Linked DNA regions of Homo sapiens. The protein of the gene in region 2 interacts with the protein of the main gene of each other region in a pairwise test. Each region holds a gene or a part of one and is shown on either strand. Other genes may lie near its edges.

Region 1 (16,452 bases), on a different chromosome or scaffold from region 2:
TCAATCCAATGGCCAAAGTCAGTCTATCCTCAGCAGCACCTTCTGACACGATCCAGTGGTAGTGTCCCTCACCTGTGGCCCTCGGGGTGCTGTCCACTGTTTTTCACAGACCCAGCCACCCCCCAGCTCTGGCCCCTGGTTCTTCACACATACCCTGTCAGGCTGTAGGAATTGAACTCACTCTTGACTTTGGGAGGTTGACCAGGCCTTGGAGAGCTCCTTGTGGCAAGAGGTTGGGCTTGGTAGGCATCGTAGTAGTTGGAGCGATTTCTCTGGGATGAGCAGGAAAAGCAGAGGATGATTCCAGCTATCAGGGAGAACAGGGAAGAAATAATGCCCAAGTAAAGAGCCTCTCCAATCTCAAATTTCATGCTGTCAGGCACCAGTGGTGAGTAGAAGTCCCGTAGGATCCCATGAAGATTCCAGGCAACAGGAATGAATCCCAGGAGGCCTCCAAGGATGAAAAAGACTCCACCTGCTACCGCCACTCTGTCTTTGGCTCGGGATTCCTGGCAGAAGACTGTGCATCTCATGCCCACCACAGAGATAATGCAGGCCAGGGAGGAGATTGCACTGGATGTCACCATCATGGCCTGGGCAGCCTGGATGTCAGCGGGCAGGCCCAGAAGGGTGCTATAGATGTCACACTGGGTGATGCCTGTGCTGTGTGTGGCACATTCCATCCAGAGGCCCTTGGAGAAGCCAACTGCTGTCACAATGCTGGCACCGACATAAGAACTTGTTTTCCAGCTGGGGAGCAGCATGGCAACCAGTGTGCCCAAAAGCCCCAGAAGGCCTAGGATGTAGCCCACAAGTTGGAGGCCAAGAGAGGCCATGGCAGACCTCTCAGTAGAAGCGTCTTCAGGGACTGCTCCCTTGTCTTCAGGCTGAAGCTCTTGCTCCTTGAACACCTCTAATCCCTCATTTCAGAGTCTCTCTGCCAGGCTGACTTCTCTCCTCCTTACAAGTGTCTGTGGGTGGCCACAAGCAGCCTCAAGAAGGCATCTAGAAGACCTAAAAAAAATCCATAAACCAGATTAAATATTGACCAGAAGCTTATGAGAAACCAGAAAACGCTGGATGCCTTTTGACCTTTGTTATCTTTAGAAATAACACATGAGAAAGGAAAAAAAAAACAACTTTGAACGTGGAGCCAAAATGTCATCGCCTCCTGCGTAGGCACATGCCTTAGGTTGGCAGCTGGACAAAGCCAGGAGCCAGACAGGTGGCTGCTTTCCGGGAAGGTGATGATGGCAGTGGTGGTTGTGGTGGCTGTGTTAACTCAAGTGCTAGTCTCCAAGGCCTGCTGTTTAATACATTGCCAAGCAACAGTGCCATAGGGCCCCTCAATTGCAGACTGAGGCCAAACTGCAGACTACATCAGGAGGAACAGATCCTAGAATGTAGTCTTGGACTCCAGTTTGTTAGAGGCCTCTTGAATCTCCAGGGGCCTAGAGAGTAGTGGCCTAGCCCTGGATCATTCTGCCCATGGTGAAAATCTACTCCAGGGTAGATGGGGGTGGGCAGCAAAGCCTTCTGTCCATACTCTGAGAGTTCAGATCCTCCCAGCCATGCCCAAATCCCCCTCTGCAGCCTAGTCTAAGGCCTCCTGCATGTATAACATGCCCAGACATTTCCTGTCCAGTCTCCTAATAGATGCTCCCATCATCAGCCTCTTGGATGATGAGGGAGCACTCTGGAACAAGGGTTCCAGGACTGAGAGGGGGCCCTGAAATTCCCTGGGCCATCTGTTAGGGGGGACAAGAGTCTGCCACAGAGGAAAGGGAAACTGCTCTAGAATATAGGGCTTTGCATGAGGCAGGTATCTGAGTCAATGCTTTGGAATCTCAGAGCCATATAAGATTTTGCCGTGTTCAAGGAGCCCTCGGTGTTGCCAAGATTCAGGACACTAAGGGTCAAGGGCACACCTCCCCATTCTCTACAAGACCCTCTGATCCACTAATTTTTCTTTCTTTCTTTTTGAGACAGGTTCTCACTTTGGCACCCAGGCTGGAGTGCAGTGGCATGATCTCGGCTCATTGCAGCCTCGACCTCCTGGGCTCAAGTGATCCTCCTGCCTCAGCCCCACAAGTAGCTGGGACTACAGGAGCGCATCACCACACCTGGCTAGTTTGTGTGTGTGTGTGTGTGTGTGTGTGTGTGTGTGTGTGTGATCCTCCTGCCTCAGCCCCACAAGTAGCTGGGACTACAGGAGCGCATCACCACACCTGGCTAGTTGTGTGTGTGTGTGTGTGTGTGTGTGTGTGTGTGTGTGTGATCCTCCTGCCTCAGCCCCACAAGTAGCTGGGACTACAGGAGCGCATCACCACACCTGGCTAGTTGTGTGTGTGTGTGTGTATTTTTTGTAGAGACCAGGTTTTGCCATGTTGCCCACACTGGTCTTGAACTCCTAAGCTCAAGTGATCCACCTGCCTCAGCCTCCCAAAGTGCTAGGATTACAGGCATGAGCCACCGTGCCCGAACTAACCCACTAATTTTTCAACCCACCACAATCTGGCTATTCCATTTTAGCCTTCTTCAAGATTTCTCTTTCCCTACTCATCTCTTAAATGTGAGTATTCCTCAGAAGTCCATCCTTTTCTCAATTAACACTCTGTCCCTGAGCAAACTCATCTTGCCCCCATAACTTAATCTACTACCCATCCACTGACCCTCCCAAATCTGAATTTCCAGGATAGACCCTTCTGAGCTTCAAGACTGGCAGAGCAATCACCTAGTCAGAATCTCCACAGGGAAATCTCATAGACATCTCGAATTTGACATGTCCAAAAGTGAACTCATCACATCCCCCATGCAGCTTTCCCCAAACAGTTCTTCCCTGTGTTCCCTGTGTTCACTGAATGATACCTCTATCCATCCACTTGTGCCAGACCAAAATCCGGAAAGTGATCTTTAGCACCTTTCTTCTACTTACCTCCTGCATCCTATAGTCCCTATGTCCCACCAGTTCTACCTTATGAATATACCTCAAATCCATGGTTCCTTTCTCTCCATTTCCACTGCTACTTCCCTAGTTCAGTTTCACCATTCTTTTTTTGAGACCGAATTTTGCTTTTGTTGCCCAGCCTGGAGTGGGGTGGCGTGATCTTAGCTCACTGCAATCTCCACCTCCCAGGTTCAAGTGATTCTTGTGCCTCAGCTTCCTGAGTAGCTGGGACTACAGGTGCACGCCACCACGCCCAGCTAATTTTGTATTTTTAGTAGAGACAGGGTTTTGCCATGCTGGCCAGGCTGATCTCCAACTCCTGACTGCAAGTGATCCGCCCACCTCAGCCTCCCAAAATGCTGGGATTACAGGTGTGAGCCACCATGCACGACCTCATCATTCTCTTTCACCTGGATTATAGCAACAGCTTTCTAACTTGTCTTTCTCCCAATTCATTCTCCACATCATTGCCAAGGTGATCTTTCAACACATTAATCTGATCGAGTCACTACTCTACATAAAGCATTCCAGTGGCTCCCCATTTGCTAAAAAGTAAAGTCCAAACTTGCTTGGTTTACCCCATGACCTCTCAAGCTTCATCTCTTGCCATTTCCCTCCTCATAGTCTGTACTATTGTGGAATTAAATTACTTCCAGTTCTTCAATCATGCCATGTGGTCTTTTGCTCCCAAATAGAAATAGAACAGAATATTCTATGCAGAGTGTTATGTATTCTTCTTCCTCTGTTTAGTGCCTTCTCATCTTTTAGGATTCAGCACAGATGTCTCTTACTCTAGCCTGGGTCAAGTACCCCTCCTGTCTATTCTTACAGTATCTTGTGTTTACTTCCATCATAGTAATAATAATAATAGCAACACTTATGTAGTGTTTCTTATGGGACCATTATAAGCACTTTTTACATGCTAACTTATTTAGTCGTCACAGGTTTTTTTGTGGTAGGCACTAATAATCCCTATTGTATAGATGAAGAAACTGAGGCAGAGATAGTACATTTTGCATTATGTTGCAATTTCCTGTTTAAACCCTCATTCTTCCCTATTAGCCTGTGAGCTACTTGAGGGCAAGACTATATCTTATGTATCTCTGTATCTCATGTGCCTTACATACTGCTTTATCCAGAGCAGCAATTCAAAAACTGTCTTCTTAATAAATGAATGAAGTTGGCAAAGAGGTTTGAGGGGCTCCATATGACTAAAATATAGGGACTTTCCAAATGAGTCAATAACGCTTCAGTGTAAGGGTCATTGAAGTGCTGCCCAACGTTGGGAAAGAAGAAAGAGAGAGATGGGGGATCAGAGGAAGAAAGAGGTAAGGGGGGAGAGAGAGACAGCAGAGCTTCACTATGTATATATATAATGTATATTATATATATTTATAATATATATGCATTTGTGGAATATTTTGTCTCCTCAACCAAATTCTAAACAATTTAAGGGTGAAAAAATATATATTAAATGTCTATCATGCTTCCACAGCATTGGGCACATGATTGATAGTCAATACGATTCATCAGCATTGGAAACACCAATGCCAGTGTTGATGCAAAGCAGTGCAGAGCAGGAGCCGATAAACATTTGATGAAGGGAGAGAAACATAGTTTGAATCTCACCTCTGTCACTCATTAGCAAGTCTTTCTTGACATTGGTTTCTTATTGCTAACCTTGGCACAATTGTACCTGTCCTGATCATGACTATGTATCTCATTGAGGCCTTCAGTGCTGCTTGGAAATCCTTCTACTTCTCCCTGGTAAGCACCCTTCTGATGACTGCTTCAAACATTTACTACTACTTTTTGAGCTCCCTACTCTACCTCCTCCCTGTGCAGCTATTACTCCTATCTTGATCATTCTCTTTGCAGCCAAGATCCTTAAACAAGCCATTCATTATTGATGTCTCCACTTCTTCACCCTCCCACTCACTGCTCAGCCCTCTGCAGTCTGGCTTCCACCATTAGCCCTCCACTGAAAATATTCTCACCAAAGTTATCAACTCTTTTCTTGATCCAAAATTCAATGATCATATCTCTGTCATCTCACCTTGTCTCTCTCCTTCATAAAACTATCTTCTCCCTTGTTTTCTGTAACACCACTCCATTTTAACTACTTCTCAAAATGATTCTTCTAGTTTTCCCTTATAAGTTCCTCTTCTTCTGCTCACTCTTTAAGTCTAACTATCCATCTCTGCCCCTCTAGCCTCCTCAGGGTTTCATCTCGACTTCTAGATGGCTCTTCTTATCCTTCACATTCTTCATGGGTTATCTCATCCTCTCTGTCTCCATGCCAGTGACTCCTGAATTCATATCTCTGCCACAGATTTCTCTCCTGAACTCAAGATTTGTGTAGTTAACTATTACTTGGAATGGCCCTACCTGAATGTTTTAATGGCCTCAAATTCAACATTTGCAAAGCTGGAATCATCTGCCCTTTTTGCTCCCCATGCCCAAACTGCTCCTCATGCAGTGTTCCTTACCTCAGTGGGGCTGTCACTGAGTTAATAACCCAAGCCAGTCATCCTTGCTTTTTCACCTCTTGTTGACATATAATTAATTATAATGTACCATCAGGTCTGCCTTCAAAAATAGACTGTGAATCCATCTACTTCTTTCTGTCGCCACTGCCCTAAACCATAGTTCAGACTATGCAACCATCGTTTCTTGTCTATTTGAAAATCTCATAGACACCTCAAATTGATCTCTCTAATTCCACTTCTGCCCCAATCCTGCAATAATGAATTACCTACCCAGTAGTCAAAGATCTTTGTAAAGTTGAAATCAAATTGTGACTTTCACCTCACGCTTTGCCATGCTTAAAAATCTTCAGGAGCTCAGCCGGGTGCGGTGGCTTACGCCTATAATCCCAGCACTTTGGGAGGCCGAGGCGGGCAGATCACGAGGTCAGGAGTTTGAGACCAGCCTGGCCAACATAGTGAAACCCCGTCTCTACGAAAAATACAAAAATTAGTTGGGCGTGGTGGCATGTGCCTGTAATCCCAGCTACTAGGGAGGCTGAGGCAGGAGAATCGCTGGAACCGGGAGGTGGAGGTTGCAGTGAGCCGAGATTGTGCCACTGCACTCCAGCCTGAGCGATAGAGCAAAACTTTGTCTCAAAAAAAAAAAAAAAAAAAAATCTTCAGAGCTCTTAAGTATTTCAGGATGAAGTTCAAACTTGCTAGCCCAGGAAACCAAGAAAGCCCTCCATTATTTCACCCCGGCTTTTCTTCACAGCCTCATCTCACACCATTAACCTCCAACCTCATGCTTTATGCTCCTATACATACACATATGATCCAGCCAAACCTAAGCACTTGAATTTCTCTGACTGCCTTTCTCTCTGTCTCCAAGCCCGTAAGCATGCTATTCTACCATCCACCATTTGCTTGGATAATTGCAAATCATCTTTGAGGATGCATCCTTGCCTTGAAACCATCCTTGGGCCCTCCCTGCTCCTCACCCAGGCTGGGTTCAATACTTTTCCTTTCTTCCTCCTATTTGTATCTGAGCTTTCAGTGAGAATTGGTGAGATACCTTGAGGTTTTCAAGGGGAAGACCTACTGCTTCCCAGAGGAGCAGCTCCTGCTTCAGCCTTCCTGGGATGGCAGCTGAAGAGTCAAGCTTGAGTTTCCCAAGGGAATCAACAGTGTCCCCAAGAGGAAAGCCTCTCCCCAGAGCCTGTCCTAAGTAGTAGTAAGTAGGCAAGTGTTTTGGGGTGAGGGAGAGGGCAGAGTCAAGAAAATGCCATTACTGAGGCTTGGAATCTCTAGAGTCTGACTTGGCATAGCAGCATGCCCAGGCAGGAGGAAGAACAAGTTATTGGAGCTTATTCAAGTGATAGAAATGGCCCCATGGAGGGGGGGTTCAGCTTTCCACCAGAGTTAGGAAGACCAGCTAAATGGCGAATGGTTGGGTGGTGAGACAGGCTGGATTCAGCCAGGTTTTTGTTTGTCTGATGAGCAGTAGAGGTGAGGGCAGACAGGGTCCTGGTGTTAGAATCAAAAGATCTAGCTTCTTGTTGTGTCAGTTCTGCCTAGAACCTGCTGAGGAAGTCCTATAGCTTCTCTAGGCCCTAGTTTGTCATCTCCAAGATTTTTAGTCTCAAATAAAGGCATGGGGACAGGAAGCCACTTTGACAAATATAGAAGACTGAAGAGCTGTTATTAGAAGCAGCCAGTTTTAATAGAAGCCTCTCTTTGAGGGATCCTCCTAGAAGTCAAGTACTGGCTGCGTTGGAGGTACAGAGGACTCTAGGCCTTGTCAGCTGAATTTGTCTTCTGGGCATAGGGCCAACATACTCCATGGCCCAAGGACTGGGCAAGAAAGTTTAACTTAGGATCCTTACTTAATCTTCCCTAGTGGGGAGATTGGAGCTGCAGGAGAGGATTAGGAGGGTCAAGATTGACCGCAGCTCCTGACTTAACCCCTTCTCACCTAGGTACTTTCCCTGCTATTCTCCCCATCTCTTGCTCCAAGAGTCTTGTGCATGGTACTCTTTCTTTGGCAGTACCCTCCTAAGACTACATGGGACAGGGCACTTGGGGTTCCCAGGCTCAAGGAAGGAACTGATGTGGCCTTCTGGGGGTGATGATGGCCACCACAGCCCTCTTCTGTCAGTCAGCCTCATTTCTATATCCCTTGATCTCACTGCCCCTCATAAGAATCTGAGACACTTGCCCCCTTCTCTGAAACTCACTTCCAGCTGCCAAGGGCACTAGTAGGTGGCAAAGCCATTCCCTTGAGGCCCTACTTTCTTGAAAGTTTGTCCTTAGAGCAGTTCATCTTTCCTTCTACATCAATTGATTGATGGCAGTTCAGAGAATTGCAACTGGATTGAGAGATTTTCTTATTGTTTGAAAAAGAAGTTGATTTTTGTCCTGATCATCAAAGTAAAGCATTCTCACTTTAGAACACTGGAAAACACAGAAAGGCAGAATTTAGAAAACAAAAATCGCCTACGATCTCCCCGGCCATAAGTGCTGTGAATGTTTTGGTTCCAACTGCATTTTCAAAGAGGGCACTTGAAGAGAGTAATACCTCAGTCGAAAGAAGGAATTTCTAATGACAGACTTGCAGACCAGTGAGGGAGAGTCCTTGAAGGACCTCATGGGGAAACTTTATGACTTCACTTAGGAACCCACCTTCTGCTACCTCCCTGAGCCTTCATGCCAAGGAGGGCACTGGAGCTGGCTGTGAGGGAGTGCCCCTTCTGCCACTCCTCAGTCCCCTACACTTAGGCAGAGGGGTAAACTGTGGCTCCCTTCCTCCAATTTTTATCCCAGTCCTTTTAAGCCCCCAAACCAGAAAATATCTGATTTGGAGAGTGCTTTCTCTGGTCCTGAAGTTTTAAAGATTTGAACCTTTGTGATAGCTTTGAGGGAACAAATACCACCAACCCAAATGCCACCGGAGTTTCCCCTCCCATACCCTTCACTCAGAAACCCAAGGTGGCCCAGCCTGGCTCCACCATGGGGTGAATGGATAGTGACTAGGAAGGAAGAGTGCCCACCTCGGTGAATTTAAAAGGCAGCAACTATATCAGGATGGAGATACTTACAGGGCAGTTCTTTGCAGAGCCTTGGAGGGGGAGATGCCCCTGGAGAGGGAGAAAGGGATCCTGAGGGAGGGGAGCGAAGTACAAGGGGCCACGGGCTGAGGTGATAAAGGATTTCTAATCGTTAACCACAGCTTTGCAAAATCCATCTGCAAATCTGAGCCGTGGGTCAGAGACTTATTACAGATCAGAATTAAACCCCTGGAGGCTGGGAAAGATTGAGGCACTTTAGAAAAAAAAAAAAAAAGGTTTGGTGGGTTTTCTGTGTGTGTTTTTTTTTTTCTGTCAAAAACTCCACTCCAGCTGGGCTTTTGTGTGGTGACCTCTGTGAACCCAGGAGAGGCCTTGTGGGGAGGGGGATTTGGCCCAAGAAGGAATTCAGAACATTCCAGCTTTGAGGGTGGTGAGAGGAGGGGGCTCTGTCCCACCAATTAGGTGTCCCTGGCTAGCAGCCCTGAAGCCCAGCAGGGAGTAAGCTGCATAAACACAGCCCTGGTGAGCCAGTGCCCAAGCAGCCCTGCATGGCCTGCAGCTCCATAGACTTTTCTACTCAGCTTGATTCTCTGGCAGGCCCTCAGCCCTACCCCACCCCTAAGGTTGGTCCCAAGGCTCAAGGGCAAACATGGGTACTGTAGGTTCAGACTCTGAGTTCAAAGAGCAGGTCCTACAAGGTGGAACTGAGTAGGCCAGCATAAGGACAGGGCTCTCCTTTTTACCACACATGGCAGTGCCATGCACTATGTCATTTAAGCCTCTCAAAAGTGCTGTGAAGGCCGTGTGCAGTGGCTCACGCCTGTAATCCCAGCACTTTGGGAGGCCGAGGCGGGTGGATCACCTGAGGTCAGGAGTTCGAAAACAGCCTGGCCAACGCGGTTAAACCTTGTCTCTACTAAAAATACAAAAATTAGCTGGATGTGGTGGTGCGCACCTGTAGTCCCAGCTACACGGGAAGCTGAGGCAGGAGAATCACTTGGACCCAGGAGGCGGAGGTTGCAATGAGCCGAGATCATACCACTGCACTCCAGCCTGGGTGACAGAGTGAGACTCCATCTCAAAAAAGCAAAGCAAACAAACAAAAACCCAAACAACAACAGAAATAAAACCAAACCAAAACAAACAAACAAAAAAACATGCTGTGGAGTAGTAGAGCGCAGTGACTGGCTTTACTCTCCCAACGCAAAAAAGCTTTCTAGTTTTTTCTAAGTAGAAAAATACTAGATGCTATTGAAAAGAATTCAGAAAATGAATTATAAAGAAGAAAATAGAGGTCCTCATAATGCCACCAGCCAGAAATAATCATTGCTAACATTTTGATGTATTGTAGAAGATATCGATGGGATTTGTTTTATAAAATTGAATCACACTATACCTACAGTTTATGTAACCTTACATCATTTGTAAATAACATATCGTGGACCTATTTCCATGTCAATTAAAACACAGAACTACATCATTCTGTCATGGCTGCACTGCATTCTATCATATAAAATATGATTTATTTAATCGTAAACTACTAGACGTTTTGTTATTTTCATTTTCACTATAACCCAGCATCTTTGCACATAATACTGACAAAGTCTTAAGAATAGAATTGCTAGGTGAAAGAGTGTGCATGTTTTAAAGGCCAATACAACATGTTACAAAAATAAGACAGCCATTACTATTTCCAGATGAGGAAACCTCGGCCCAATGAGATGAAAAGAGTTGCCCAACATCCCAAGTTGAGCAGTAATAGTTAGACTTGGAATCTAGGTCTGTAGATATCTAGCTTGGCAAACTTTGCAGTGTACAACACCAACTCCCTCCCAAGGATTCCCATGTACAAATGATAAGGCCACGGTTCATTGAACACTTGCTAGGTGCCAGGCACTGTGCTGAGGTGTTTCCTATCCATGGTCTCACTGTGCTAGTACAGAGCAAGGCCTGGGTACCAAACCTGGCCACCTCTAGAGCTTGCCTCATAGTCATTATGCTTGACTCTATTTTTCAAGTCATATCAAAGCAAACAGTCGGATTTGTTGCCTAGGGTGAACTCAGTGAAGCAAACCAGAAATCATCCTCCTTCCCAAGGCGGCCCATCCCTACCTTGCAGGTACAAATGGGGCACTGATCCCCTGGCAGTGCTCCTGAGCAAGGGTCTCTCCAGGGCACTCCCTCTTGGCAGGCTGGGACACGCTAAAAGGGCAGCCATGCCTGAGCTCAGGCCTGGGGAGTCTTTGGGCATGAAAGCAAGCAAGGCTGAAGGGGTGGGAGGGATACCAGGCTAATCCTCTAACCAACTATGTGACCTCAGGCAAGCCTCTCCATTTTCTTTTCCCAGGCTTCACCCAGCCGAATTCCCAAGGCTGGGTGAATGAATGTGAATGCATTTTGACAAGTAGAAAATGCTGATTGAATGCAGAATGTAGTAGAGGGGCACCTTATCAGTTCATAGTGACTGTGCAATTGAGGATAGGAAAAGGCAGAATCTTAGGGGCAGGTGCCAGGGCGGATGAGGAGACTGTGTTGGCAGGATGTGGTTTCCAGATTGGCAATCATTCAAGGACTGGGTTCTAACACTGTGTTTCCTTCAGGTCGGCATTGTCAGATCCTGGTGGAATCATGCCAAATACTATGACTCCTCAGTGTTGAGCCTAGGAGGTTCTTTAGTAATCCTTCTGCCAAGACCCCTGCTGAGATCCAAAGAGCTTAGATGGGTGCGGGAATGGAGAGGGGGCTGAAAGAACAGGAAAGAATAGCAGTCTGAGAAAAGCAGCATTTAGTTCAGGAGACAAGTGAGTAGGGAGAGAATAAAGGGAGGGAAATAAGAGTATGGGAAGAGGTGGTTTGGGGGAAGAGAAAAGGAGAAGAGAGAAAAAGGGTCTTTGAGGAAGAAAATCAAAGAGAGCTCTGTAGAAAGCAAGGTCTTGAAGGGCAGGGAGGAAATGATGCTATGAAAAGAGGAGTCTAGAAGGAGAAGTAAGAGACTCTAAGGAAGAGGGTGTAGGGATGGACTCTGGGAGAAGGAGTTAGGGTCTAGGGCAGAGAGAGACTTAGAGACATTTCACCCTCACTGTTCCACCAAAAGAAGTTCTTGTCACAGTTACCAATGACCGCATGTCACCAAATCCAATGGCCACTTTTTAGTCCTTAATTTCCATGACCTCTATGCAACATTCAATGCCCTTGATAACCTTGTCTTCCTTGAAATACTTTCTCCTCTTGGCCTCTGTGATAACAACACTCCTCTGGTTTCCCTCTTATCTTTCTGGGTACTTCTTCATTGGTACCTCTGCCTCTGCCAGACCCTTAAATATGGGCACTTCTCAGGAGCCTGACCTAAGTCCTCGTTCCTCACTCTGCATTCCCATTCTGGGAAGTCTCATTTATCCTCTGTGGTTTCAGTTATCCTCTATCATCTGACGACTTCCAAATCATCATTTTCAGCCCAGACTTCTCTGGGCTTCAGACCTTTATATACTGGCATCTCCATTTGGATAGCTGAAAGTTGTCTCAAATGCAACATGTCCAGGGTCTTGCTCTGTTGCCTGGACTGGAATGCAAGTGGCATGATCACAGCTCACAATAACCTTGAACTCCTGGACTGAAGGGATCCTCCTGCCTTAGCCTTCCAAGTAGCTGAGACTACAAGCATGTGCCGCCACGCCCAGCTAATTTTTATAATTTTTTTGTAGAGATGGGGTCTCACTATATTGCACAGGTTAGTCTCAAACTCCTAGGCTCAAGCCAGCCTCCTGCTTCAGCCCCTCAAAGCGCTGGGATTACAGGTGTGAGCCACTATGCCCAGCCTCAAAATTGTATCCTTGATTTCCCTTTGAACTGAAATCAGTCCTCCTTCAGTCTTCTCCCTTTGAGAAAGCCAATTGTTTAAGCCAGAAACCTCAGAGTTAGCCTTAATTCCACTTTCTCTGACCCTCATTGTATCAGACCTGTAAATCTTTCCCATTCTACCTCCAAAATTTAGCTTTTTTGTCCATCTGCTGGTTTCGACTTCCACTCCCCTTAGCATCATCTCTCACCGGGATGCAATACCCTTCTGATTTTCCTATTTCTCCTTTTGGCTTTCTACAGTCCATTCTCCACATAGTAGTATGATTTGGCCCCTACCTAGCTCTCCAAACTGGTTTTGTACTACTCTCCTCACTCCCCACTCTCCCGACTGGCTTCCTTTCAGTTTCTCAAGCCTACAATGCTCTCCCTTCCCTCTAGGCCTTTACAAGTCCTGTTCCTTCTGCCTGGAACTCTTTGTGGACCCTGGCCCTACTCCACCTTCAGCTGGTTTTGTCTGGAAAACTCCTTATCCTTTAGGGCTCAGCTTAACGGTTGCTTCCCTGATTCCTGGGGTCTCTTGGTTGGATATTCCTCCTCTATGCTCCCAAAGCATCTTGTTATCCCCCCACCAATTGTCTTGGGTTGTATTTGTTGTTGCTACTCCTGCATAGGACTGTGAATGCCTGAAGGGTTTGGCTTTTTTTTTTTTTTCTTAATTCAACTTTTATTTCAGGTTCAGGGGTATATGTGCAGGTTTGTTATATAGGTAAACATGTCATGGGGGTTTGTTGTGCACATTGGGTTTGGCTTTCAATTGTTATTTTCATCACTATTCTAGTCTAATACATAGTAGGTGCACCATTGAATTGATGGAATCAGACTGAGAAGAGATTGTGGTAAGAAGGGAAACACTAGATGGGTCTGGGAAGAAAGGGGTCCAGGAGAAGAGGAAGGAGAGACAAAATGATTATGTAAGAGAAAGGTGGGTGAAGAAGAGAAGTTCTGGGAGGGGAGGCAGGAGAAGGGCTCATGAAGACATGTCTGGGAGGAAAGAGAGAATAAAGGTTTGAGAGGCAATGGATAAGCAGATCTAGGAGGAGAAATGTTGAGCAAGGGCTTCCTAAGCACTAATGCACAGACTTAAGAAGAAAGGAAGGGAGTGGTAGAGGATCACCAATAGGAGAAAACTAAGGCCAATGTAGCAAGATTTGTAAATTATTTAAAGCTTATTCAATTTAAAAGACTACTTGTAATTCCGGACTTATTCTTTGAATAGTTGGTATTAAGGTTTCTTTTGTAAAATAAGAGGTGGTAGTATTTTTCAATGCCCTTAATTAACAAAATTAAAAGTTTGAAAACCATATGTTGATTCTCCCTCATTTTAAAAAATTTTGTAATTCCACTGGTCCACAAAAATCCCAATTGAGGAGAGCTCTGGGAAGAGCACATTCTGTCAATGGGTCTCAACATTTTGGTCTCAGGACCACTTTACATTCTTATTTAGGAAATGACCTAAATGTCTTTCAACTAGTGAACGAATAAACTGGTACATCTGTGTAATGGAATACTACTTCACAATCAAAAGGAATGTACTATTGATACACACAGCTACATGGGTGAAGCTCAAATGTATTATGCTGAATGAAAGAAGCCAGACTCAAAAAGCTGCTTACTGTTATGTTCTATTTATATGACATTCTTGAAATGACACTACTTAGGGATGGATAATAGATTAGTGGTTGCCAGGAGTTGGGGTAGTGGAAGGGGTTTACTACAATGGAGTGGCATAAGGAAATTATTTGGGGTGTTGAAACTCTTAATTGTTGTTACATAATTCTATGCATTTGTCAAAATTCATGGAGCTGCACACCCAAAAGAGTGAATTTTATACATCCCTCCACATTTTGTCATTCAGCACCTTAATATCTATGCAAATTTAAAAATAAACAAATAAAAGATATTAGTTAACAAATTATTGAGGACTCCAAAGGGCTTTTATTTGTCTAACCTCCAAAGGGTTATATCTATTGACATTGAACATATTTATAATTAAAACTTACATTTTAACTATTTATGTATTACTTTAAAATAAAAATTATAAACCTATTACATTATAACATAAATAATATATATTTATGACAATTATAGTTTTCAAAACAAAAAAATGGCAAGAAAGTGGCATTATATTCAATATTTGCAAATCTCTTTAATGTCTGGCTGAGCACAAGGCAGCTGGATTCTCATATCTGCTCTTGCACTCCAGCTGTTGCAATATGTGGTTTTTGGTTGAAGTGTGTGAAGAAAATCCAGCCCCACAAAGATAGGGAGGTAGAGAAGGGGGGTATTTAATAGTCCTTTTAGGCAGAATTCTAAGAATGACCCCCAAATGTCCCTCACATGCCTATAAATTTCTTCTCTTTTGGGAGTGTTTCTGATGAGATATCACTCCCATGTTTGTGTTAGTTATATGGCAAAGGGAAATTATCAAGGTTGTACTCACCTAATCACAGGAATCCTTTAAAAGAGGGTTTGTGGCCGGGTGCGGTGGCTCACACCTGTAATCCTAGCACTTTGGGAGGCCGAGGTGGGTGAATCACCTGAGCTCAGGAGTTTGAGACTACCCTGGGCAACATGGCAAAACCCACTTTATTAAAAATGCAAAAATTAGCCGGGCGTGGTGGTGTGTGCCTGTAATCCCAGCTGCTTGGGAGCCTGAGGCAGGAGAATCACTTGAGCCCGGGAGGTGGAGGTTGCAGTGGGCCGAGATTGCACCACTGCACTCCAACCTGGGCCACAGAGCGAGACCCTGTCTCAAAAAAAAAAAAAAAAAAAAAAGTTTTCTAGTGGTGGAAAAGGAAGTCGGAAGTGAGAGAGATGCAAACTTGACTATGCCGTTGATGGTTTCCAAATGGAGAGAGCTGCGTAAGAAGGAGTGTAGGTAGCCTCTAGGAGCCATAAGCAGCCTCTGGATGACAGTCAGCAAGTCAGGGGGGCCTCAGACCCACACCCTGAAGGACCTGGATTCTGCTAACAACCTGAGTAAACTTGGAAGGGGACTTTTCCCCAGAGCCTCCAGATAAGAGCCCGGCTCAGCTAACCACTTCATCTCAGCCTTGTGAGACCCTAAGCAGGGAACTCAGGTGAACACACCTGGATTTCTAACCTATATAACTGCGAGATGATAAATGGGCATCGTACTAAGTTGTTAAGTTTGTGGTAATTTGTTATGGCAGCAATACAAAACTAATAAATGGTGTGGGGATTCTTCTTGATAACTACACCTAAACTTCACAAGTGGTTGTTTCTTAATGTTTCTTTGCAATGTTGAATCTGAAACTAAACCGTATCGGTGAACCTTTTGTACTCTGTTACATTAAAATCTACTGGTCAGCCAGGCACCGTGGCTCACACCTGTAATCCCAGCACTTTGGGAGGCTGAGGTGGGTGGATTACTTGAGGTAAGGAGTTCAAAACCAGCCTGGCCAATATGGCAAAACACTGTCTGTAGAAAAAATACAAAAATTAGCCAGGCTTGGTGGTGTATGCCTGTAGTCCCAGCTACTTGGGAGGTTGAGGCATGGAAATTGCTTGAACCTGGGAGGTGGAGGTTGCAGTGAGCCAAGATTGTGCCACTGTGCTCCAGTCTGGGCAACAGAGTGAGATTCTGTCTCAAAAAAAAAAAATCAATTGCACTTTGAATGGATCTGTTATCCATGCATGATTTTGTAACATCATGCATTAGTCATCTGGAAAATATCGGTCCACCCACTTATGCAGATCTTCCCATTGCTGACTCGCTTTTTGATTCTACAATATTAAAAAATCACATTCATTAGTATCCCTACTAATCTTATTAGAAAGCTCTTTAGGATATTGAGAAGCTCTCAAGCTCACAGTGGCTGATACAGGTTTTCCAAAATTGTGCTTTTTACTTGAAAGCGTAACTTTTATCATTGACAACAAATAGTAACAGTTGTTTTCCTTGAGGTGACAGGATCATTTTGTCCATTTTTAACAAAATACTTGCCAAGCACCCAAGTTTGAATAACCACAATTTATCTGTCAATCATTCAAGTAAAAAAAAAAATAAAGTGCTCCCCAGCACTTTGGGAGGCTGAGGCAGGTGGAATGCTTGAGCCCAGGAGTTTGAGACCAGCCTGGGCAACATAGC
Region 2 (16,511 bases):
CATGAGGTTAAATAAGGATTCTCTCCCTAAAGTCTCAGAGGACTATAGATAAGACTTTGGTAAACCCTCACTACAAGCTACTACTATTACTTATCTTGAGATGTCTGCCTCTCACATGGAAAGTAACTTGAGCAAAGTCATACACATTTTTTCTAAATATTTTTTCAATAGGTAACACATTTACATCGTTCAAAACTACATACACATAAAGTCACGCAACTCTCTCATTCACCCTGTCCTCCCTCCCTCCATGTATTAACTTCTTAGTCCACTTAATATGATGCTTAGGAACATAACCTGTGGAGTCAGAGGGTATGGGTTTCAATGCTGGCTCCCCCATGTGACTAGCAGTGTGATGTTGGACTACTTACATAACCTCTCTGTTTGTAGTGGCCTAATCTACTAATGTAAAATGAGGGTAATGATAATACCTATTTCCTGAGGTTAGAAGAATTGAATTAATACTTATAAAGTGCCTGATGTACAGTAAGTGTTACAAAATTGCTTGTTGAAGTTTAAAAATGTAAACTAACCCAATTGAGAACTAAAAAAAAGTAAATTAAAATATATTCTTATTTTTCCTCTTGTTTAAACTAAAAATAGCATTCTATACACGTCCCTCTGCATCTTGCTTTTTCTGTGTAAAGTGTATCTTGGAGATCTTTCCATATTAGTATAGAGAGAATTGCTTCTTTTTCCTTTTACAAACTGTGCAGTATTCCCTTGTATGGAAGTTCCCTGGCAGTGAACATCTGCACAGTTTCTAACCTTGTGCAATAGTAATCAGTGCTATAAGAAACCTTTTACAGGCCGGTTGCAGTGGCTCACGCCTGTAATCCCAGCACTTTAGGAGGCTGAGGCGGGTGGATCACTTGAGGTCAGGAGTTTGAGACCAGCCTGGCCAACATGGTAAAACCTTGTCTCTACTAAAAATACAAAAATTAGCTGGGTGTGGTGGCACATGCTTGTAATCTCAGCTACTTGGGAGATTGAGGCAGGAGGATCACTTGAACCTGGGAGGCAGAGGCTGCAGCGAGCTGAGATTGCACCACTGCACTCAAGCCTGGGCAATAGAGTGAGACTTTGTCTAAAAAAAAAAAAGACACACACACAACGAAAAACAGAAACCTTTCACATGGATCATCTCATACAAATGCAAGCTTATCTATCAGATAAATTCCTAGAAGTGGAAGTTTGGATCGATAAGTGTGTAGTTTGGATAGATATTGCTATAGAGCCCCCAACAGAGGTTGACCTAATGCACATCAAAAATACAGGAAGTTACATGAGCAAATGACTGAGAGTCACTGCCTTCCTACATTCCTATGAGAATCATGTATTATAAGCCAAAGCAGTTTTGATTTTTGCAAATATCATAAGTGAAAAATTATTTCATATGTTTACCCAGTGAGTGAGAATGAGCACCCTTTTGTGAGTTATTTCCTTTTCTGTGAATTGATAATTCATGGGCTTTGTTAACATTTTTTTTACTTGGTTTCTATTTTATTTTATTTTATTTATTTTTTGAGACAGAGTCTCGCTCTGTAATCCTGGCTGGAGTGCAGTGGTCTGCTCTCACTCACTGCAACGTCTGCCTCCTGGGTTCAAGTGATTCTCGTGCCTCAGCCTCCTGAGTAGCTGGGATTAGAGGTGCACTCCACCACACCTGGCTAATTTTTTGAATTTTTAGAAGAGATGGAGTTTCACCATGGCCAGGCAGGTCTCAAACTCCTGGCCTCAATGATCTGCCTGCCTCGGCCTCCCAAAGTGCTGGGATTACAGGCGTGAGCCACCATGCCTGGCCAAAACTTTTTACTAGGTTTTTAGAATCTCCTTCTGATTCAAGGAGATCAGCTCTTTCTCTATGATATGAGTTTGTAAATATATATATATAACCATTTTGTCATTTCACATTATATAAGGAGCTTATCTTAATGTTTTTCCTCCAATTCCCATTGCCTGTCATACTTTCTGGCAGATAGGAAATGTTCAGAAAATGTTTGTGTTACGAACACCTTTATGGAGGAAAGAAGCTCCCCTGGCACAAAGAGGAGCCTCCAGGTCTGTGCTTTGGGCCTTATATTCAGTGCAGAGACCCAGGTCGACCACAGATATTAACACATCCCCCTTCATTCAACTGCCACAGCTCAGCTCAGAAAACCTGAGGCCAAGCAGGTACTGACCTGCGATGGAAATGCTGGCTGTCTTTTCCAGGCCGAGGAGGGAATTTCTGATGATGCAGGATACACCCTCCCCGGAGCCGCCTCTCATGATCACAGATGCTGCTACTTCATATAGGCCCACTCCATCTGCAACCACAGGTGCTTCCACAGCTGGGATGTTCTCTCCCTTGGCGTTGCTCCACTGTATTTGGGGTTGGGGGTACCAGCCGGTGGACCTGCACTCCAGATGGATCCCTCCATCCTCATAACCCTTCACTTCGACGTGAAGATTAGAACCCAGTGCTGTGGAAGGATAATTTGGCCTAAATTCTGGATAGCTCCTGTATTAGGGAGGGTCTCAATGGGAATCAATGTCAGGCTCAGATTTGATAATTCAAGAGATATTTCATTCAGGAGCTGTTTACAAAAGTGTGGTCATGATGAGGGGAAAACTAAATTTGCTAGTGCAGTATCCCAGGGTCAGAAACAGTGGGGCTATTCCCACCCACCCCAATTACCAGAGGGAGGAGGAGAGGAAGCTGTTTTGAACACAAAAAAGAAGAGATTCATGCATTGAGGACTTCCTTTAGAGGAGCTGTTACCTTCAGCAAGGCAATGCAGCCAGCCTGAGGGTAACTTGCAGTAAGGAAGCCAGTGAATAAGCACCCAGACTTCTTCCTTTTCTCTTCCTCCTATGATTGTCTGCTAGAGATCCCCTTAAACCAAACCTAACCAGCAGCCACAGGGCAAGGGATTGCACTGAGAAAGAGAAAAGCTGTCCCAACATATGGAAACTGACACCGGGTCTCTGTGTCATCCTGTTGAACATAAGCAATTTCACAGAACACAGACAATGGCACTTTGTGACTATGATGGATCATGGGAAAAACAATACCACCCCACATCATATGTGAGCATAGAGAAAAACATGAACATTGTCCAAACCACAGCAGTGACCAAACATCCCCCCTCAGCAATGAGGGATTGCTGCCCCTTCATCAATTACAGCTTTTGTCTCACCCTGGTCTCCTTCTTCCTACATAAGATTGATTAAGGCTCTCACTCAGAATTAACCTGCCCACACCTTCCTGATGGAATCTCATCCAGAGCAGAGGGCTAAGTCTATGAACTCCCCCGGCCCCAATCCCCTAACACAAGCCCAAATTGTATACCAAGTCTGCTCTAACACCTTCTTACTGAGACCCCGCCACAGCTCCCCATGATGTGTGTTCTTCCTCACTGCAACACGTAAGAAATACAGCTAGTTCTACTACAGGAGTATTCCTGGGGATGGCTAGTTGGAGAACACTGGCAGCAGATACAGTCACTATTCCACCTCCCAGGACCCATGGTAGTGTGCACTTGGAGACACAACAGAAGCCATCTGTTACACAACTAAACCAAAATGACTGTGTACCAGTCACTGAAGAGATGGTTTCTTATGCTTCCTATCCCTCGTCCTTCACTTCGCTTATATCTCTGGTGGCCAGAGGAAAGGAGTTCTTTACTTGAGCATGTAGGGTACAGCAGGAATTCTTCCTAAAGGAAAACCTGTGTCTTACTCAAGGGCCTCAGAGAAGCTAAGTTGGGAGGCAGTGCAGGCAATTGCTAGTGAGCAGCCAGGAGTGTCTGCAGTGCTTTTGCAAGAGGGACTCTGCATCTGCTCTAGATCCTACAGAGAAATGTTCTCAGAACAAAACCTGGAGGCTCACCTGCAACCTTCAGCTCCACCAGGGCTTTTTCATAGAAGTCACCATCTTGGAAATAACACAAGTACTTTCCACTGTCAGAGGCTGTGACGTTGTGTATTCGGAGAGCAGCCTTCCCTGCAGTGATGCCATCCCGCAGAATCGAAGTTCTCCCTCGATACGGTGCACTCTGCCTGTCTTCCACTTCCTTTCCATCTGCATACACGTTCACCACCTGCCTTAGGCTGGAACTTACCCACTTCAGCTCCATGGTCTCTGCACTCATGGTCGGGAACAGGTGACAGGGCAGATCAGCGTCTTCACCCACCATGGCCAGGATGGGCCCAGAGGGTCCAAGCACAGAAAACTGAGCTGTCAGCACAAGGGGGAAGCTCCATCAGAGGGTTTTGGAGTTGGGGTCATGAGAGGAAGGGTCCTTCTCAGACAGGGAAGGCGAGATACAGAGAACCTAGAGGGGAACACAATCCTAACAGAAGGACCATTTGTCTCTTTGTGACAGGTGATCCTTCAGGTTGGGATGGACTTCCAGGTATGGGAATGAGTTAAAGGTTCTAAGAGGGCATTTAGGTAATTGTCTGCTTAATTAGGTAATTGAGATAATTGTCTGCTTCAGAAACATAAATGTGGAATCATGGAATCATTCCCTACCTGAGCAAGGAGTGAGCAGCTGGACCAAGAGGAGGGAGACATGAAAGTTGAGCAGAAGGAAAGCCAGGGAACTTGCCATTTTCATCTATGCTGCATATCAAGAGATACCAGAAGGTGTGGGACAGACACTATGGCCTGGAAGAAGCTTTAGGATTCTGCATGGAAATGTCCACTTCCCCAGGGCTAACTCAAATATGGTGACCGAAGAAGATCTTACCTCTGCCAAAAATGTCTGTCCTTGAGTGTCTTTACCTTTGGGTTCCAGTATGGAAAACCATCTGTAAAAATAATATCTGTTATCTGATCAGGACATCTCTGACTCTACTGCATTAAAATATTAAAATATTCATAATCCTATCACTTCCCCACACTTCCCTTGCCAGGTCCAAGCTTCCATCATCCCCCTCTGATTCATGAAGGACCCTCTTCACTGGATTCCCTGGTCCCACCCTTGTTCAGCTCTGTGGGTGTCCAACACTATGGACTCCTCAAGCGTCAAACTCTTGGCCATTACTACAGTCAACTTATGGCCTGGTGGCTCCTGGTGGGATCCAGGCAGACTGCCTGGCAGAGGCTCTGAAGTCAGTCAGGGGCTGAACCCACCACGTTTAATCACAAAGATATTGATTAGGAGAGCTTTGAATAAGACCAGGCTTTACTCATCTTTTCTTTCTTCCCTTCATAAAGTTATTCAACAAATATTTACTGAGCACCCACAATGGGCTGGACCCACTATGGTAGAGTTAGGAACACAAAGAGGGTAGACAATAGGTAAAGGCTCTACAAGTCACAAGCTTGATGATCTCAGTCATGGGACAAAACCATTTCAACTTTAGTTACTCAAAAATATCGAGTATGAGACTTAGAATGTTCACAATTGGCCCAGCAATTCCACTTCCTGATGGTTACTTCAGCGAAGTACTCGCATGGGTGCAGAGAGAAGCCTCTGTGGGAATGACACTGCAGCACTATTTTTAAAGTATAAAAGTGGTTACCAACTGAACCAGCCACTCACAAGAGACTGGTTAGAGGAATGATGGCTCATCCCTAGGAGGAAATTCAATGCAGCAGTTAAAAAGAGTGATTTAATGTCACTAGCCTGGATAATGGAGATATACTAAGTGATTAAAAAGCACCTTGCAGAACTATACTAATGATTCAATTGAAAAACAAAAGCAAAGCTATACATTTCTGCATAACTATATATGTAAATGCCTGAAAAAGTCTAAAATGATGGATGCTAAACTGAAAATTGGAGGTTAAGTGAGTGAAAGGACGCTTTGGCCTTTTGCTTCCTTTACTTTTAAAATTATTGGAATGCTTTAAGTTTAAAATTTTCATGTATTAGTTAATAACTAATTATTATGAGGAATAATAGTGACTGGAACATATTAGCTGCTCAGTAAATACTAACTCCTCAACAGTTTCTCCCAAAACAAAGGAGCATGAGGCCTGCAGCCATCATACCAGCTGCTGTGGGTCTGGGAATGGCCTCTGAGAACAAGGTCTGCAGATGGAGGTGGGGAGAGATGTAGAGGAAGCAAGGGAACAGAGGTCTGTGCAGCTGGTCATGCTCCACCCCTGCCTGGATCTTGCATCCACCATCAGACTAAACATTATATTTCACCACATCTTCTGCTCCTCGAAACTGCTCTTTATTCTCCTAAGGAGAAGGAGGTATTATTAAGCTAAGCTAAAAATTTCTCTGCTGTCCTCAGAGGGAGAACTTTTATTTTTTAGGTTATTTATTATTCATTCTTTCTACTATAGACAATTTTGCCAAAGAAAAAAATATAAAGGAATAAAACCTTAAATACTCTGTAGTTATATACTTTGCTAATGGAAGTGGAAATGTTTCTGGAAGCATTTGGCCATGTACACATGGCAAGTGCCTTTAAAATGTTGTATTATTTGCCCCCAAAATTCCAACTATAAAAGTTAGTGTTGAAGAAAAAAATTTAGAGATTGATGCAAATATTTATGGATAAGGCTGTTCAATCTAGTAAAATCTACAGTAACAAAATGTAGAAACTGAAAAATCCAAAATAAAGAGTTTTAAAAATAATTCGGGTTTTTTATTTGTTTGTTTGTTCTTTTTTCTTCTTTAGGAGCGGCTTTCTGAGTCAGAGTAGGCTCACAGAGACTCCCAATAATTATATATTCATACAATGTAGTAGCTTGTAACCATGGGAAATCATGCTTTAGGTTTTGGGGAAATGATGAATGGAAAGAAAACCAAGTACTATCCCTAAAAGATACCAAAAATGGTTTAATATAAGGATCCAGTGTTATTAAAATTATAAAGAATTTCACTTAATTAAAATTATGATTCCTAATGGTTACATGGAACATGTTTTATGACTGAACCATGCATTGTTTGTCTATTCCCCACCTGTTGAATATGTATGTTGGTTCAGATTTTACTATATTATAAATACTTCTGTAATAAACACATTTACATATAAATCTATGAGGCACATCTCTTTTTTCTTCTTCTTCTTCAGAATTTCTCAGAATAGATGCCTTGAGTTGGCCAGAACAGATTTTAAGGGTTTTTTGTTTGTTTGTTTGTTTGCCCTTTTCTGACCACAATACGTTAAGAACATGCAGTTGGAATATTTCTTCATTCATGTTGTCTCCCTTTCCTTCCACTAAATCCCAACCTCTGCAGTTCCTTATACTTTGCAGTACTTCTCCCGTCTTCCCACGTGCCCATATGTGCATGTGCGAGTGTGCACATGTACACATGTACACACACACACACACACACACACACACACACACACACACACAGGCACTGCACCCCTTTCTCTGGGAGAGTACTCTCCCTGCATGCCCACTCACCACTCTCAGCGATTCAGCCCCGCTCCTCCCATGCGTTGTAGCCCAGGCTCTAATCAATTTCCTGCACTTACCCCTTGGTATTCCCATTGGAGAATCAGAGCCCACAGAATAAAGACGGTCAATCAATAATTCTCCATTCTTTCTATTATGGCTTAGCCTCTCATCCGGAAGAAAGGAAAAAGAGAAAGCAAATATTGTCTTCTCACCATGAGAAACAGTAAGAGTCGCTCTTTGGAAGAATTAGTTTTTTGATTGGCTCAGAGGTGATGTTTCTCATCAGTTGCTGGGCAGAAACCACTGAGGAACGTTGAAATGAAAACTGAAAGTACATTGAATTGTACACGTTGAGGAAAAACTCCAGCCCTACCTCCCTTAGTGTTTGTGTTTCTGTGTTTATCTATTTGAATCATTCTTGTGCGTGGATGTATATAAGTATTTCTTTATATTCACCTGTCTCGTGTCTTTTACATGGTAATAGAAATATTAGCAGAATGGAGTAGGAAAGTAAAAAAATTTAATGTGCAAAGAGAGGAAGATGTGCACTAATTAAGATGCTTCTGTGGCAGTTTGCTTGCATGTAGATAGGTACGTAGAAGAGGAGGATCTTTTTTACAGAGCCTAATAAAGGTATGAATGGAAAGAAAATGAGACAAACTGCACCTCTTTAAGAACTTCTGGCATTTAGGCTTAGGATATGGTATCAAATAATATAATTTTTCTGATTTCCAGAGGCAGTGCTGCTTGACATTGTTTTACCTTTCCCAGGAAATTCTTACTGCAGATCTTTCTGAGCATCTTCATTCACCCTCAGCTCCTGGTTTGTGCTATATTGTATTTTCTTGGGTATTTGTTTCTCACGCTGCCAGTGGAGTACATATTCTCTGAAGCTAGACACTCCATAGGCTGTGGTCTCTGTAAGGCTCGTTTCCTGTACACCATCTCTGTAAGGAGTTTATGGGACAATCTTGTTCTCCCTGTGGCTTACGACCTCAAAACACACTTTTTTGGGCTGCAAGCCAGAAATCTCCTAGAGCTAATATGTGACTGGAGCTGATGGGATTTGATTATATTGCAACAGTTTGAATTTAGGCTGTGTGGTATCTGCTTGAGATGGCTGGTTGCTTCTGCAGCGTGCATGCCCCCTTCTTCTTAGTGACAAGGCCTAATTTTCTGGGGTACTGCATCCTGCTCTTCCCCCTTGAAGATAGGGCAGGCCAAGGGACTAAGTTGGAGCCAGCGGTTTGTAGGTGAAAGTTGTGGGCTTGTACTTCTCCCAGAAATCCTTCAAAGGGAGGCCAAAATAGCTGGGAGTGTGAGGGTACACTCTCCCTTCTTCCTTCTTCCTCTTGCCTAGAACATGGACTTTGGACCCGGAGGTGCAGTAGCCCACCCTGGGACCATGAGGCAGCCTTGAGGTTGGAAGCCACACACTGGGACAGCAGAGAATGAAGTCAGAAGCAGGCTGGGGCATGAATGACATATCTGAGGTGCCAGATCAGCCCTGGACTGTCACCATCTAAATTTATTTAAAAAATTTTTTCTTTTAAAATATTTTATTATATATTAGTACTCAGGGTAAATTTCCAAATAAGTTTGTTTTTCATGAAAGGAAAACAAATCCTTGTTTTATTTAAGCCAGTGGTACTTCTGGTCTCTGTTATCAACAGAAAAACACAATTTTTCCCTCCCCCTTCCCCCTCCCCAACAGTTTATTATAAAACTTCTAAAACATATAGCAAAGGTGAAAGAATTTCAGTAAATTCCAATATATCTACCATGTAGATTGTATAATTAATATTTTAGTTTCTTACTTTATTATAAATCCATCCTGCTGTTCACCCCTATTCATCCATCAATATTTGTTTATTTGTTCATTTGTTTATTTTTAAATTCAGACTCTATCAGAAGCTGTGCTGCTTGAGATCGTATTAGTAAGAATGAACATCCCACCTTTGCCTGGAGGGTCCAAGTCACTTTGACACAAAGAAGCAGCCAATGTGCTAAGCTTCAGATTAGGAGTTTCTGAGCCCAACTCTTCATATCTCTGAACTTTGTAGTTTCCAAACTATGAGACCCCTAAGTTCATTTCTCACTCAATGTCTTTGTTTCTTCAGCTATGGGTAGGGATGTGACCTGCTTCTTAAGTTGTTTGGGGAGAACCTAGCACAGCACCTGCACATATTAACTCTTTATGAATGTCATTATTTTCCATTATGAAAGGTTCGGTATCAGCTGGTGCCTGTTGTGGAGTTGGAGTTTTAGTTTGAAGGTGAAGAGAAAATCTTTTTTAAAAATGGCATGAGAAAATGTGTACATTGGAAACAATAGTGTGAAAGGTGCCAGGGAAGATGGGAAGTAAGAGTGCCATTTACATTGTATTCTGTGGAATGATGACGCTATGATTACACAATATAGCCAGTCCTCATTAGAGAATCAGATGGTAGAAGACAAGGAGACCAGGAAGAAAGCTACTGTGACACTCCAGGCAAGAAATGATGAGGCCTTAGGGATGGAGGAGAGGGAAGAGGATTGATTATTATTCTTAATAATAGCTTATACTCACATAGAACCTACCGTGATGTTGGTATTGTGCTTAGAGGTTTACATGCATGAATAATACTTTTGCTTTGTGAAGTTCTGAGCAGAGAAGCCCACTAAGCTCTGCCTGGACTTCTGACCCACAGAAACTGAAGTGATAAAAGTGTACTGTTATTTATTTATTTATTTTTGAGGCAGAGTCTCGCTGTGTTGCCCAGGCTGGAGTGCAGTGGCACAATCTTGGCTCACTGCAACCTCCACTTCCTGGGTTCTAGCAATTCTTGTGCCTCAGCCTACCAAGTAGCGGGGATTATAGGTGTGTGCCACCACGCTGGGCTAATTTTTTATCTTTTATTTTTTGCGTTTTCAGTAGAGATGGGGTTTCATCATGTTGCCCAGGCTGGAAAAGTGTACTGTTTTAAACCACTAAGTTTGTGGTAATTTGTTATGCAGCAATAAATCACGAATGCATTAGGTAAGTGAAACACACAGTGGCAACAAACATGAATATAAAGAAGACAAAGAGAATAACTTGTGTTTCCAGCCCTGACCCGTTGCCTGGACTGCAAGCTTATTATTGACCTGCCTACTCTACATCTCCACGGGAATCTCTAGTAAGCTCCTCAAACCCAACATATTCAAAACTGACCTTTGGATTCTGTGCTGGCTCCTCCTCTGGCCTCCACAAGCGGTTTCTCCCTCATTTTCCCCATCTCAGTAAGTGGCAACTCCATCTGTACCGTTTCTTAGGACCAAAACCTTGTGGTCACCCTTGATGCCCTCCTTTTTCACACCCCACCTGTAAGTTTATCAGCAAAGCCTTTTTATTCTATCTTGAAAATAAATCCAGCATCATAACATTTTCATGGCTCCTCCCTGGTACAAGTCATCTGCATCTTTCCCCTGGATCACTGCAGTAGCTCCCAGCTGGGTCTTCAGGCCTCCATCCACCACCCCTACCCACAGCCCATCTTGGTCTAGCATGTGAAGTAACTTCTTAAAACATAAGTCAGTCCAGTCCTTTTTCTGCTCTAACCTTCCAGTGGCTCCCCTCTCAGAGGTAAAGCCCAGGTCAGCATGATGACTTTCAAGGCCATACATGATCTGGCCCTCAACCCCCTCTGGCCTTGTCACCTCCTCTTCTCCTGATCACCCTGTGTGCTCTGCGCACCCCAGCCTCATTGCTTTTCTTCACACAAACCACAGTGCTTCTGCCTCTGTGCTCTGGCACTGCTGTTCTCTCAACTCGGAATGCTTTTCTCCCAAGTATTCTGTGCCTCGCTCCCCTTGCTCATAACCACCCTATTTTAAACTGTAACTTCCAACCGGGAACGAGGGCTTACAGGTGTAATCACAGGACCTTGAAAGATCGAGGGAGGAGAATTGCATGAGGCCAGGAGTTCAAGAACCTGGGCAGTATGCATAGCAAGATCTCTGTCTTTCAAAAAAAAAAAAAATTAGGCTGCAGTGAGCTATGATCACTCCAATGTACTCTAGCCTGAACAACAGAGCAAGACCCCTTCAAAAAGAAATGCAAGTTCTGCTATTCCAGGTTTATTTCTCTCCTGAGCACTTATCATCATCCAGCACACCATATATATTACTAATTATTTCATTTCCTGTCTGCCTCCTACCACAAGTTATGTTGTTTTTGAATGAGAACTTTCTGTTTTGTTCACTTCTGTGACTCCACCACCTAGAATAGTGACTGGCACATAGTTAGCGTTCATGGATCCTTGTCAAATGAATGAATTAATGAATTGACCAAATAGAGAAGCCTGAGGGAAGCTGGGGTGGGGGCTCCCCGATGTGGGTGCAGAATTAGCCTGAGACAGGAGAAAGAACACCTGCTTGTTGAAATCAGAGGAAACAGATCATGAGGGACAGGTATAGGTGGTGGAGCAGGAAGTTTGGGACCTCCCTTTTCTATTTTCTCTCTGAGGTGGTAGACTGTGGCACCATCTGAGATGTGGGGAAAGGATGTGGTGATGAGGATAACGGCTAACGGTCACTATCACAGATACGCGCTGTGTTCGCACCAGGTGCTCTCCACACCGTATCTCATTCCTAAACATCTGCTAAAGAAGTAGATGTCATTAATTCTATTTCTAGGTGAGAAAAATAGAGTTGCAGAAAGGTCAAGGATCCTGTCCTGGTTTGTCTGAGTGAGTAGAATAGGGGTCACCCAGGTGTGTTGACCAGGGAGAGGAAATGGGTGCAGAGGCATGAAACTGCATGATATGTTTGGGACACTGCAGGTGTTGTGGTCAGGCTGAGGAGCAGCACATTGCCAGGATGTCCAAAGGTAGAGCAGAAGTAGGTGGCCTGGACCACTGAGTGCCTGCAATGCAGATAAAAAGTCCAAGGAGGCCGGGCGCGGTGGCCCACGCCTGCAATCCGAGCACTTTGGGAGGCCAAGGTGGGCGGATCACAAGGTCAGGAGTTCGAGACCAGCCTGGCCAATATGGTGAAACCCCGTCTCTACTAAAAATACAAAAATTAGCCAGGTGTGGTGGTGGGTGCCTGTAGCTCCAGCTACTCGGGAGGCTGAGGCAGGAGAATTGCTTGAACCCAGGAGGGAGAGGTTGCAGTGAGCTGAGGTCGCACCACTGCACTCCAGCCTGGGCTACAGAGTGAGCGAGACTCCGTTTCGAAAAAAAAAAAAGAAAAAGAAAAAGAAAAAGAAAAAAAAAAGTCCAAGAAAGCTGGACTTCATCTTTCAGGCCAGAGTTTCTTCAGCAGAGTTATGTAAAAAACTTGTTTAGACAAAAACTAATTTTTATAATACATCTGAAAATATGTCTTCTAACTACTGAAAGAGATGGGAACTAGTTAAAAAATGCAGCATTAAAAGTTAAAATTTGTTATTAGGGAAGTCATTGGTCACTGATATGATAAACAGTAGTTTCCTTGGAAACTGGAACCACTCCACAACAGTTGATTATAAAGATGTGAACCAGATGATATAGAGTCTGCTTAGGTTACAATTTTTAGATTTAAATTGGCATTAAAATAATTTTTTAAAATTTTAACATTTCTGTCCAGGCGTGGTGGCTCATTTCTGTAATCCCAGCACTTCGAGAGGCCGAGGCAGGCGGATCACTTGAGGTCAAGAGTTCGAGGCCAGCCTGGCCAACATGGTGAAACCCCATTTCTACCAAAAAATACAAAAATTAACTGGCCGTGGGGGCACATGCCTGTAGTCCCAGCTACTCGGGAGGCTGAGGTGGGAGAATCGCTTTAACCCCGTAGGCAGAGGCTGCAGTGAGCTGAGATCATGCCACTACACTCTAGCCTAGGTGACAGGGTGAGACCTTGTCTCAAAAAAGAAAAAAGAAAAGAAAAGGATGATTGTTGCTCTTGGTTGAAGGGAAGCAGGAGCCCAAGGGGTTAAGTGGTTTGCTGGTGGCTGCTGTTGAGAGAAGGGCCATGGTAAACTGAATCCCAGAGGTCTGCAATAAAAGAAGAAAGAGGCTGGGCGTGGTGGCTCATGCCTGTAATCCCAGCACTTTGGGAGGCCAAGGCGGGTGGATCACGAGGTCAGGAGTTCGAGACCAGCCTGACCCATGTGGTGAAACCCCGTCTCTACTAAATATACTAAAATTAGCTGGGTGTGGTGGTACATGTCTGTAGTCCCAGCTACTTGGGAGGCTGAGGCAGGAGAATTGCTTGAACCTGGGAGGCGGAGGTTGCAGTGAGCCTGGGTGTACTCCAGCCTGGGTGACAGAGTGAGACTCTATCTCAAAATAATAATAATAATAAATTAATTAATTAATTAAAAAATAAGAATGAGCCTCCTCTATTGGGAAAGGTCATCCTCTTTGAGCACACAGTTTTGAGAGGGAGAAACTTCCTAATGCTCAGCAGCAAATTTTTTCTATTGCTTAGCCCCAGGCCCCCTCACAATGTGAGGTTTCGTCACATTGGCCAGGCTGGTCTTGAACTCCTGACATCAAGTGATCCGCCCACCTTGGGCTCCCAAAGTGCTAGGATTACAAGCATAAGCCACCACGCCCAGCCGGATCATTTAAGGATATATGAGTAGCTGCACTCACCCCCTTGTTAGAACCTCCAAAAAAGTTCCTTATTTTTCTCATTTTCCAGAATAAAAACAAATTACTTTTAAAATCAGAAAACTCATAAACAGATTACTATTTTAAGGATTAAATCGTCATCCCAGGACAAAACCTGGGTAGCCATAGGCAAATCACTTCCTCTCTGAATATCAATGGTTTCATTTATAAATGAGGTGGTTAGACCACAGTGATTTCTACAGTTCTCGGATGTGCTTAGAAAGCTTTTTTTTTTTTTTTTTTTTTTTTTTTTTAATAGAGACAGAGTCTCACTATGTTGCCTAGGCTGGTCTCGAGGTCCTGGGCTCAAGTGATCCTCCTGCCTAGGCCTCCCAAAGTGCTGGGATTACAGGTGTGAGCCACTGCATTTGGCCTAGAAAGCTTTTTGTTGTTATTAAATCATATGTGCTCTATAATATAGAACATATGATACCACACTTTGGTGACCTATCGATTTCTTCTCACATGTTGTAGTTGCCTTAGAATGTGGAGGCAGCTGGAAGGCACGATGAACAGCAATAGCAGATCACTGGCCTCTGACAACTGTCATTCAGTTGAGAGATGTGGATTAAATATGCCCCCAATTATTATCTGTGTAGTTGTGAGCACATAAGTCAATAGACATAGCGAGTGCTTCCCATGGTTCTATTACTTTATTCCCAAGATTCACACGTGACTATGGCCAGCAGCCTCTGGATATGTTAAGATGAAGGAGATATCAACAAAGCATCATGAAAACATTATTATTATTATTATTATTTTCTTTGAAAGGGAGTCTATCTCTGTCGCCCAGGATGGAGTGCATGGGTGCAATCTCAGTTCACTGCAACCTCCGCCTCCCAAGTTCCAATGATTCTCCTGCCTCAGCCTCCTGAGTAGCTGGGATTACAGGCGCCCGCCACCACTCTTGGCTAATTTTTGTATTTCCTGTAGAGACGGGGTTTCACCATGTTGCCCAGGCTGGTCTTGAGCTCCTGACCTCTGGTGATCCGCCCGCCTCGGCCTCCTGAAGTGCTGAGATTACAGGCGTGAGCCACCGCACCCAGCCGAGCGGAGGTTGCAGTGAGCCAAGATCGAGTCACTGCACTCCAATCTGGGTGACAGAGCGAGACTCGGTCTCAAAAAAAAAAAAGAAAAAAAAAGCCAAGCACAGTGGATCACTTGAGCCCAGGATTTCAACACCAGCCTAGGCAACATGGCAAAACCCAATCTCTACAAAAATACAAAAATTAGCCAGGCGTGGTGGCATGCACCTGTAGTCCCAGCTACTTGGGAAGCGGAGCCTGGGAGTTCAAGGCTGCAGTGAGCCATAATCATACCATTACACTCTAGCCTGGGTGACAGAGTGAGACTTTGTCTCAAAAAAAAAAAAAAAAAAAGTTTTGGCCGGGCGAGATGGCTCATGTCTGTAATCCCAGCACTTTGGGAGGCCAAGACAGACTGATTATTTGAGGTCAGGAGTTCAAGACCAGCCTGGCCAACATGGTGAAACCCCATTTCTACTAAAAATACAAAAGTTGGCCAGCTGCGGTTGCTCATTCCTGTAATCCAAGTGCTTTGGGAGGTCAAGGCGAGTGGATAACCTGAGGTCAGGAGTTCGAGACCAGCCTGGCCAACATGGTGAAACCCCATCTCTACTAAAAATACACAAAAATTAGCTAGGTATGGTGGCTCATGCCTGTAACCCCAACTACTCAGGAGGCTAAGGCAGGAGAATCACATGAACTCAGGAGGTAGAGTTTGCAGTGAGCTGAGACCACACTACTGCACTGCAGCCTGGGCAACAAGAACCAAACTTCGTCTCAGAATAAATAAATAAATAAAGATAGAAAAATTAGCTGCGTGTGGAGGTGCACGCCAGCTACTCTGGAAGCTGAGGCAGGAGGATCACTTGAACCTGGAGACAGAAGTTGTAGTGAGCCAAGATCACGCTACTGCAGTGCAGCCTGGGAAAAAAAGCAAGACTCTATCTCAAAAAAAAAAAAAAAAAAAAAAAAAGGAAAAGAACGGGCTGGGCACGTTGGCTCACGCCTGTAATCCCATCACTTTAAGAGGCTGAGGTGGGTGGATCACCTGAGGTCAGGAGTTCAAGACCTGCCTGAACAATATGATGAAACTCCGTCTCTACTAAAAATACCAAAAAAATTAGCCAGGTGTGGTGGCATGTGCCTGTAATCCCAGCTACTCGGGAGGCTGAGATAGGAGAATCGCTTGAACCTGGGAGGCAGAGGTTGCAGTGAGCCGAGATCACGCCATTGCACTCCAGCCCGGGCAACAACAGCGAAACTTCGCCTCAAAAAAAAAAAAAAAAAAAAAAAAAAAGATGTAGATTTTATTCCCACAAGAGAGAGACAACTTTGCAGGGTCATTTCAAGACAAGGAAATATATTTGGGGCTAAAATATTTTCATTTCTTTCCTTATTTATTATGTGAGGTCATGCCAGAGCCAGGTTGGAAAGCAAACCACGTCACATAGGGTTAAATAAAACCCCTCTGATGAAACTTTATGGTTTGTAGGGGTGACTCCCAAGGTCCCT

What was found.
Region 1: the proteins of BTN3A2 (region 2) and CLDN2 interact in binary tests that used the Homo sapiens proteins (3 or more experiments, as listed by UniProt).

Annotation. Positions count from the first base shown.
Region 1 is NC_000023.11:106,912,613-106,929,064, reverse strand, and holds the start of CLDN2 (claudin-2), read right to left. Parts: upstream 8,664-16,452; 5' UTR 8,514-8,663; intron 1,015-8,513; 5' UTR 837-1,014; coding exon 144-836; 3' UTR 1-143. UniProt on the Homo sapiens protein: Forms paracellular channels: polymerizes in tight junction strands with cation- and water-selective channels through the strands, conveying epithelial permeability in a process known as paracellular tight junction permeability.
Region 2 is NC_000006.12:26,356,276-26,372,786, reverse strand, and holds the start of BTN3A2 (butyrophilin subfamily 3 member A2 isoform a precursor), read right to left. Parts: upstream 7,590-16,511; 5' UTR 7,451-7,589; coding exon of another isoform or gene 7,435-7,450; intron 4,813-7,434; exon of another isoform or gene 4,798-4,812; 5' UTR 4,737-4,797; intron 4,610-4,736; 5' UTR 4,605-4,609; coding exon 4,520-4,604; intron 4,223-4,519; coding exon 3,875-4,222; intron 2,466-3,874; coding exon 2,184-2,465; intron 1-2,183. UniProt on the Homo sapiens protein: Plays a role in T-cell responses in the adaptive immune response. Inhibits the release of IFNG from activated T-cells.